Linked DNA regions of Homo sapiens: region 1 is reported to be linked to region 2. The links are microRNA targets in miRTarBase. Many come from high-throughput screens and were not tested one by one. Region 2 holds a microRNA gene; the other region holds the end of a gene's coding sequence.

Region 1 (4,321 bases), not on the chromosome of region 2:
CTTTGCTATGGACTCACCTGGCATTGTTCAGCCATGCTTTTTTCTTGGGATGGTAAATGTTGTATACCTACCCCTCCAGAGAATAGTGGGAAGAAATGGGAGTTGCTGGATCCTAAGGAAAATCTGTTGGTGTTTGTTTGCCTCAACTCCTCCAGTGGGGATGCTTTTTTCATGCCCTCTACCCCCATAAGTAAACATTTCCCAGGCACTCAGATTTGCATTCCTTGGTGTGCAGGTCCTACAGGTCATCAGACGGCCGGACAACCCCCCAGCTGGGCAGTGCCAACCCCTCCACCCCCCAGCCTGCCTCCCCTGATGTCAGCAGTAGCCACTCTTTGTCAGAATACTCCCATGGTCAGTCCCCTAGGAGCCCCATTAGCCCGGAACTGCACTCAGCACCCCTCACCCCTGTGGCTCGGGACACTCCGCGACACTTAGCCAGTGAGGATACCCGTTGTTCCACACCAGAGCTGGGGCTGGATGAACAGGTAAGGGACGCAGCCTTTGGGTGGGGTTGGCATGGTTGGGGGATGGAACCAGGAAGGGGCAGCATCTGCTGAAGAGGGACCTAGCCATCCCCTCCCCCTTTTGAAGGGACAAAGGGCTGCACTTAAATTGATCTCCTCAACGTTCAGTGGAACTGTATTGATCACTGCTAAATGATCAATACAGTTGTCTGGGTATACCCTAGGAGGGGTGTTCCCAGACTGTCGCAGGAACACTAGATAGACTGGTCCTAGGCTCCAGGCCACAAGGTTTGTGGCAGGGCCTTGGAGCAGGAAGCAGGCTGGCTGGGACTGGGTCCTCAAAGAGCAACTTGTCTGCCTACAGTCTGTCCAGCCCTGGGAGCGGCGGACCTTCCCCCTGGCGCACAGTCCCCAGGCGGAGTGTGAGGACCAGCTGGATGCACAGGAGCGAGCAGCCCGCTGCACTCGACGCACCTCAGGCAGCAAGACTGGCCGGGAGACAGAGGCAGCGCCCACCTCGCCTCCCATTGTCCCCCTCAAGAGTCGGCATCTGGTGGCAGCAGCCACAGCTCAGCGCCCGACTCACAGATGAGCGGGAGACAGCCATCTAAACAGACTCACTAACTATTGGCATTAAAGCTTCAGAAATCTCTGCGTTTGATATTCAAACATCATATGCCGGAAATTTTCACAGTTTTTAGTGAACTTAAGGAATTTAGATCCTACTTTGGTATTTTTTTTTCTTGTTTTAATTTTTGTTTTGTTTTTGTTTCCATGTTTTCTTGTCACACACCTGAGCACTTCCTCCCGTTGGCAAACAGAAGTTCAGGATGAGACCCTGCTGGCCTGGTCCTGGCACATCCTCTGCACTGTTGAATCACTGGACTTACTGATCTTAGATGACCACCCCCTCCCTCACACCTGTGGGCAGGGCAGAACAGCCTGGCGGGCTACAGTTTAGCATGGCCTTCTTGAGCTAGGGTGGAATGGGGCAGGGTGCTCTGGACTCTTACCCCCTCCCCTCCCATCTGTGGCTTGGCTCTGCTGTGGCCCTCCTGGCTGGGTCCCCTTGGTTTTTCGTGCTGGAACATCCCCACCAGAGCCTCTCTGCCATAACTGCCAGCTGCTCTCCCCGAGTGCTCAGCTGGCAGAACACCTTTCCTTTCTCACCCAGAACTTAAGAGACTGATTTTTTGTTTCATCTGCATTTGGTCTTCTCTGTTTTGACTCTTTCACTGCAGTAACCTGGCTGTGGCTGCTCAGGTTCCCCTCCTCATGCCCCTTGGTACCCTTCCCTGTCTGCTCTCCCATGCCATGTACACACCCACAACCCGTCCTTCCACTTGGAATATTTTTACCACCTATCCTGATCTTTGAAGGTAGGGTTAGGACTACTTAACCTCTATTCCCACTCCCCTGCAAACTGGGGGTTGTGGGAAGTGAGCAGCCATCTCCCTGTGTGATTTTTTTTTTTTTTCCCTCTGATTCACTTTGCCATGTTTCCTTCACATCCAGATCCCTGTCGGTGTTAGTTCCACTCTTGGTCTTTCACGCTCCCCTTGCCTGTGGAACATTGTCTGGTCCTAGCTGTGGTTCCCATTGTTCCCCCTTCACCCTTCTCTGTTAACCTTGTGCCTGTCTCCTGTATGATCACATCACCAAAAAGGGGGAGGGGGGAGAAGACTCTTTTTTTTTGGCCATTTTGTAATCGTATAAAAATAGTAGACAACTGCTTAATGGTTGGGGTTTTTTCACAATTTTCAACATTAGTGATTTTTTTTTCTGTTTGCAAGTTAAAGGGTTTGTCATTGTTTCTTTAAAAAAAAATACAATAATGCACCATATCCCTATGCATAAAGTGCTTCTTCTATTTATAAGGTTGAAAATTCTGAATAACCCTTTTAGCATTGAAAAAAAAAACAAAAACAAAAAATGGAAAAAAAAAACCTTGTATTTTGTAAATATTTTCTTTTCCTGCTTTGGAGCTGTGTAATGGCAGCGAAACATGTAGCTGTCTTTGTTCTATAGAAATGCTTTTCTTCAGAGAAGCTGATCTTTGTTAATGTCTTGATTCTGTTCGCAAAGCACAGACTAGTGCTTAAAAAAAAAAAAGAAGGAAAAATTGAAAAAAATAAAAAAAAAAGTTACAGAATGCTGTGTACCAGGCCTTTCTTGACTTACTGAACTGTGTATGCATGGTAGTGTTGGCAGTTTCGGAGCTGGCTCTCTGCCGCCGTTCTTTGGGGTACTCTGACTTGCTCTATACCTTGGAAAATCTCCATTCTGTCTTGTGGGAACGCCGCAGGTTGATCTGATGGCCACCAGAGAGAGAATGGTGGTGGCTTTTCACTGAGGGTAAGGGCTGCCAGGAGGAGAGGGGATCTGCATTGATCATCTCTTTTTTCTTTTTGTTGAGTGAAAGCAGTTGATGCACTTTCTCTCTAGTGAAGTCAGCTGTATGATATTTTCTATCTGTTCTAAGTTGCTCTTTAAAGGAGATTTTGCTTCTCACTGTTAAATTTTTCTGAGGTTTGGTGGGGTCAGTGAGATACATAATTTGCTTAGAGCCTGGATTGGTTCTTGCCTGCTGCCTGAGATTATAACATCTTTCTTCTGAGGAGGTTACACGCTTTTTTTTTTTATTGTTTGAGATGGGATCTTGCTCGATTGTCCAGACTGGAGTGCAGTGGTGCAATCTTGGCTCACTGCAGCCTGGATCTCCTTCCTGGCCTCAAGAGATCCTCCCACCACAGCCTTACCAGTAGCTGGGACTGTAGGCATGTGCCACCATACCCAGCTAGTTTTCGTGGGTTTTTTGTGGAGATAGTGTCTCACTATGTAGCCTAGGCTGGTAGGTGCTTTTTTTTTGTACAAGATGAATAAGTGGGTGGGGCTGGTTCTCCCTCTGCTCTCTTCTTTGCATGGCAGTCAAGCTGAAACAGCCAGTGAGGCTGTCTCTTGTGGCTCTGAAAGCCATGCTCTCTGAGATAGCACTTCTCTTTTGCTGGCCTGTTGCTGCTTTTGTAGCTGCAGTTAAAATCTGTTTTACTTAAACATCTGCCTGCGGTGGCAAACACATCAGGAAGAGCAAAGAAAAGTAGTATTTTGAAACAATCTAAGGATTCAGTATCATGACCTTGGCATAGTTACTAAGGAATAATATGATGGATTACTGTTTTGTTTTTGTTTTCCTTTGTGGCATTGCTATGAAGATGCTATCTGGTTATCCCTATCTTGGTTTAGCAGAAATACTCCTCAATCTATAATAAGGTACCAAAGGAAAGAAGGCAGCTCTGCAAACCTAGCAGGAATCTAAGCCATTCATTAAGCTGATTGGCTTGGTGTTCTGCTCCAGCCCCAGGCCTCTGGACTAAATTTCCAGGGATGAAAGATCCCATATCCTCATCCCCAACCTTCTCAGGTTTGCATACACTGGTGCCGGTCTTGCAAACTGAGTGCTGCATCGTGAGGTCAGCCACAAGGCTTTGTATTGCCCTTTGAATGGGACTAGGATGGTTTGCCAGCATCACAAAGAAGCAACTGCAAATGAGCAAGTCTGAGAACTCTCACCTTCAGGGCCCCAGAGAGAGCTGTTAATCCTGATGTCCAGCTTTTATTAATACTATCATTTCCTGTTCTGAGCTAAATTATCTAAGGGTGCGTGGGAAAGAACTTAAAAAATAGACATTCTATATGACTTTCTTGTCCTTGGAATCCATGAATGGAGACCTTATTTAATCAGAGTAATAACTTTATTTCCAAATTCACTTTTACAGCAACAGTCAGTGTAAATCATTTGTTAAAACACACAATACACTATATAGACATTCACAGACAGAAAGCTAAGCTAAGAT
Region 2 (4,396 bases):
CACATTTATTGAATAATTACTAGGCTAGACATATCAGAGGATAAAAATGTCACTGGCTCAACTGAGCTCCAGGGAAATGACTCAGATCAGATCAGAGCCTACGATCCCTACCCCTAGTCTTTTCTTGACCCTATTATCCCCTCCCTTTCCTCAGAAAGACAGTCTACCCAAAGACCTATTTAGGCTTGAAATATCTCAAATCTGGAAACCAAATTAACCCTAGAACTAATTCACACGGGCCCAGGTCTATTTCTGGCCCACATCAGGCCAGATCTGGGCCAGAACTAAACTGTTCACCAAGAGTATAGGGAAAAATGGCATTTCTTGAAGAAAAGTTTCAAATCAGAATTTGATTTCCTAATTGTCTATATTTAATCTACCTATGGCGAAACCAAGGCCCAGGAACATTAACTAATTTGTCAAAGGTGACATGATAAAATGATCATAGGGCAAGGAATAGTCGCCACCAGGGTTCCAAGCCAGATTAACACTAATATTACCAGTTCAGGTCTATACTGTGTTGAGACTTCATTTATAAAGTCTTGTTTTCAATTTCTGATCACCACTTACATGTGAAAGCAAAGCAGAGAGTCAAAAAACAATTGTTGAATGCTGAATAAGATAAGCATTTTTAGCTTTAAAATTAAAATGTGAGCTTAATTTTAAAATTATAGACCAGGCAAATATCACAGAACGCAAATATTTTGGCTCCGAGAACTAAAAAAAGAAATTTTTTTTTGAGACAAAGTCTGTTGCTGAGGCTGGAGAGCAATGGTGTGATCATAGCTCACTGCAGCCTCAACCTCCTGGGCTCAAGCGATCCTCTCACCTCAGCCTCCAGAGCAGCTGGAATTATAAGCACGTGCCACCACATCCAGCTAATTTTTTGTAGACAGGGTGTTGCCATGTTGCCCAGGCTGGCCTCGAACTCCTGGCCTCAATCATTCCTCCTACTTCAGTCTCCCAAAGTGCTGGGATTATAGGCATGAGCCACTTCACAGGCCATGAGAATTAAAAATTTAAAACATTAAAACAAAGATCAACAATGTACTGCTCCAGGGCCTAACTGAGGCCTTTGCATGTTTTTGTAAATAAAGTTTTATTGGAACATAGCCATACCTATTCATTACATATTGCCTACAGCTGCTTTCATGTTACAAAGGCAGAGTTAAGTAGTAACAACACTGCAAAGCCTAAAATATTTATTCTTTGGACCTTTTCAGAACAAGTTTGCTGACCCTGATTTAGAGGACAGTTGAAAAACTTAGAAATGAAATAAATTATCTATTTTGTTCTCTGGTTTCTTTTCTTACCCTGCTGCAGAAACTGACCAGGATATCTTCTCTTTCCCGAGTGCACTAGTAAGGTGCTTTTTCCCCCAGTGTTACCCTTGCTCCAGGTTCCACAAGAGAGCTCTATTTATCTTAAGCTATCTCTTAAGCTATTTACCAGAGAAATATATATTATATTGAAGGGTATGAAATTAACTGCAGATTTCTGTAGAGTGGCTCCAGGGCATAATACCTAAACACATCTATTCTCCATAAAGAGAGCACAGAAACGAAAACAAGGAAGGGCAGTGAGGTACTTTCTGCCCCAATAAAAAACACTCTTTAACAGAATACATTTCAAATACTTTAGTTATTACTCTACATTACTGACAGTCACATTTGATTAGAACTTTAGTTTTCACAGTTTCTTCGAGCCTATTATTGCATCCACCCCAACAACTTTGTGGGGCAGAGAGTTTATAGAAAACTGATGTTGGAAAGAACTTGCTCACGGTCACGCAGCCAGGGGGAAGTGCACATGAAGGCAAACCCTGGTCCTCTCTTCTTGTTCTACCCCTCATAAGCCAACAAGATATTTTAAATCGATGTTGCCTAATTTTTTTTCCTACCACCACACCATATATACAGGAAGCTTATGCCCATTAGTAGTATTTCTTATTATTGGTAGTGAGTCTCAAAGAAAAGAGGAGGAAAACAACCACCTCCTCTTTTCTTAGAGACTCACTACCAGTAATAAGTAATTCAGTAATAAGTAAACCAGCAATTCATCCTCACCTCCCAAATGCAGGTAGGGCAATACAATTTGGAGGAGAAAAACCCTAGGCATTCTCAAGTCTTCTCCCCATTTTCCCACCGTGCTCCCTCTAACCTTCAATCTCTCTTTTAATGGTCCAGGAATAACTGATTTCACAGTTGTATACTAGCTGACTATTAAAACTTATTTTTTTGCATGAGCAATGTGCACTTACCAACGTCCTTCCGAATCCTATAGAGAAGAAGATGTCCTTGTTTGGTTCCCACAAGAAGCCATTCCTCTGGAAAAACAAAACAAAACAAAAACAAAAACAAAAAAAAACCAGCTTTGAGAAAGGTCAATCAGCTTGAGTATAACCCTATTTTTTTAGCTGGGGCTTGTAATCAGAAATCAATGTGTCAAGAAAATGAGTTGCTTTTGATAGGAGGTGTTTTGCAAAGCTAAGAAATGTTTATACTCATGTTTGAAAATCAACCATTTAAAAACACATTTATTGAATAATTACTAGGCTAGACATATCAGAGGATAAAAATGTCCTGGCTCAATTGTTTTAATGTTAAACTAATAAAAAAGATAGAAGGGCTTTGTATTTTTAAGATTAAATTATTATGATTTTTATTTTTTGTTATATATACTTTTATTAAGATATATATCTTCAGATATATATTTTTAAATTCTGCTAAAAAGAATATGATGAAAGTTTATAAAATCACAAAATGGAAGTACAAATGTGAAACCAGGTATCCAACCTCAGCAATAATAGCTAAGAGGCATCCTTTAAATGCTTTTACTTTCAGGAAAATAAATGACGTAACATAATAAGCTTACAGAATTCATTATCTCAAAAGATAGTCTAGTAGAAAATATTTAATAACAAGTGTTGATGAGAATATAAAGAAATTAGAATCCTCATACACTGCTGGCAGGAATGTAAAATGGGAGAGCCACTTTGGAAAAGTCTAGCAGCTCCTCAAAAGGCTAAACAGAGTTACCCTGGGACCCAGCAATTCCACTCCTGGTTACACACCCAACAGAAATGAAAACATATTCTACACAAAAACTTGTACACAAATGTTCACAGCAGTATTATCTGTAATAGCTAAAAGATGGAAACAAACCAAATGTCCACCAACTGATGAACGGATAAACAAAATGTGGCATGTCTATATAACGGAATATTAGCTAACAATGAAAAGAAAGGAAGTATGGATATATGCTACAACACAGATGAACCTAAAAACATGATGCTAACTGAAGGAAGCCAGACAAAAGGCCACGTGATTCCATTTATATGAAATGTCCAGAGTAGGCAAATCCACAGAGGTAGAAAGATTAGCGGTTGCCCAGGGCTGGTGGGCTTGGGGGAAAATAGAAAGTAAATACTAATGGGTACTGAGTTTCTTCTGAAAGTGATGAATATGTTCTAAAATTTATTGTGCTGATAGTTGCATAACTCTGTGAATGTACTAAAAACCATTTAATTGTACACTTTTTTTTAACTTTTATTTTTTTAAGATAGGGTTCTACTCTGTTGCCCAGGCTAGAGAGCAGTGGTGTGATCATGGCTCATTGCAGCCTCCACCTCCCTAGCTCAAGTGATCCTCCCACCTCAGCCTCCTGAGTGGCGAGAAATACAGGCATGCACCACCACGTTCAGCTATTTTTTAAAAAATGTTTATAGAGATGAGGGCTCACAATATTGCCCAATCTGGTCTCCAACTCTTGACCGCAAGCAATGCCCCTTCAGCTTCCCAAAGTGTTGGGATTACAGGGGTGAGCGACTGTGCCCAGCCAAATTGTACATTTTAAAAGATGGTCTAGGCTAGTGGTTCTTAAACTTTAGTGTATCACAATTATTTGAGAGTTTGTTAAAATACAGAATGCTAGGCTCTACCCCGGAGCATCTGATTTAGTAGGTTTAAAAGTAGGCCCAGGAATTTTCATTTCTAACAACTTCCCAGATGATGCTGATGCTGGTGGTTCAAGGACCACATTTTGGGAGGCACTGGTCTAGGTAAAAAGAGGCTCAGAAAGAGTTTAAATAATTACCCTGACAGACCCATATTACATCATTCAAGGAAGGTAAGCATGTACAGATACTTCCTTAGCTTTTTGATAACATAAAGGTCACTCATTCCTTTCATAAACTCTCTTGATTCTTGACCTCTGTAAAATAAAATCTTGGATAATGGTACAAATAGATAACTTTTATTGAGCATGTATTGTGTTCCAGGAAATGCTAAACGCATCTGTTATTTCACTAATCCTCACAACTATCCCTTGAAGTAAGTCCTTTTTTCAAATCCCCATTTTATAGATGAGGAAGTTGAGGCCTAGGGAATATATAACT

Evidence for each region. The annotated mature microRNA hsa-miR-627-5p reads GUGAGUCUCUAAGAAAAGAGGA and lies in region 2 at 1,995-2,016, opposite strand. An mRNA with a match to its seed (bases 2 to 7 or 8) in the 3' UTR can be bound and repressed. Matches are read on the target gene's strand: a 7mer-m8 pairs with bases 2 to 8, a 7mer-A1 pairs with bases 2 to 7 and ends in A, and an 8mer does both.
Region 1: the mRNA of KANSL1 is a reported target of hsa-miR-627-5p. Seed matches in the 3' UTR shown: 7mer-m8 at 1,081-1,087.

Annotation. Positions count from the first base shown.
Region 1 is chr17:46,028,214-46,032,534 of GRCh38, reverse strand. It overlaps KANSL1 (KAT8 regulatory NSL complex subunit 1), which reads left to right. Exons shown (of 15, transcript NM_015443.4): 14 at 236-488; 15 at 832-2,619. The coding sequence ends at 1,059. MAPT (microtubule associated protein tau) reads right to left here. Exons shown (of 13, transcript NM_001377265.1): 13 at 4,201-4,321. Among named protein-coding and RNA genes, the nearest start is that of STH, 31 kb to the right of the region's middle.
Region 2 is chr15:42,197,636-42,202,031 of GRCh38, forward strand. MIR627 (microRNA 627) reads right to left here and starts at 2,031; the gene lies at 1,935-2,031. It overlaps VPS39 (VPS39 subunit of HOPS complex), which reads right to left. Exons shown (of 25, transcript NM_015289.5): 2 at 2,261-2,326.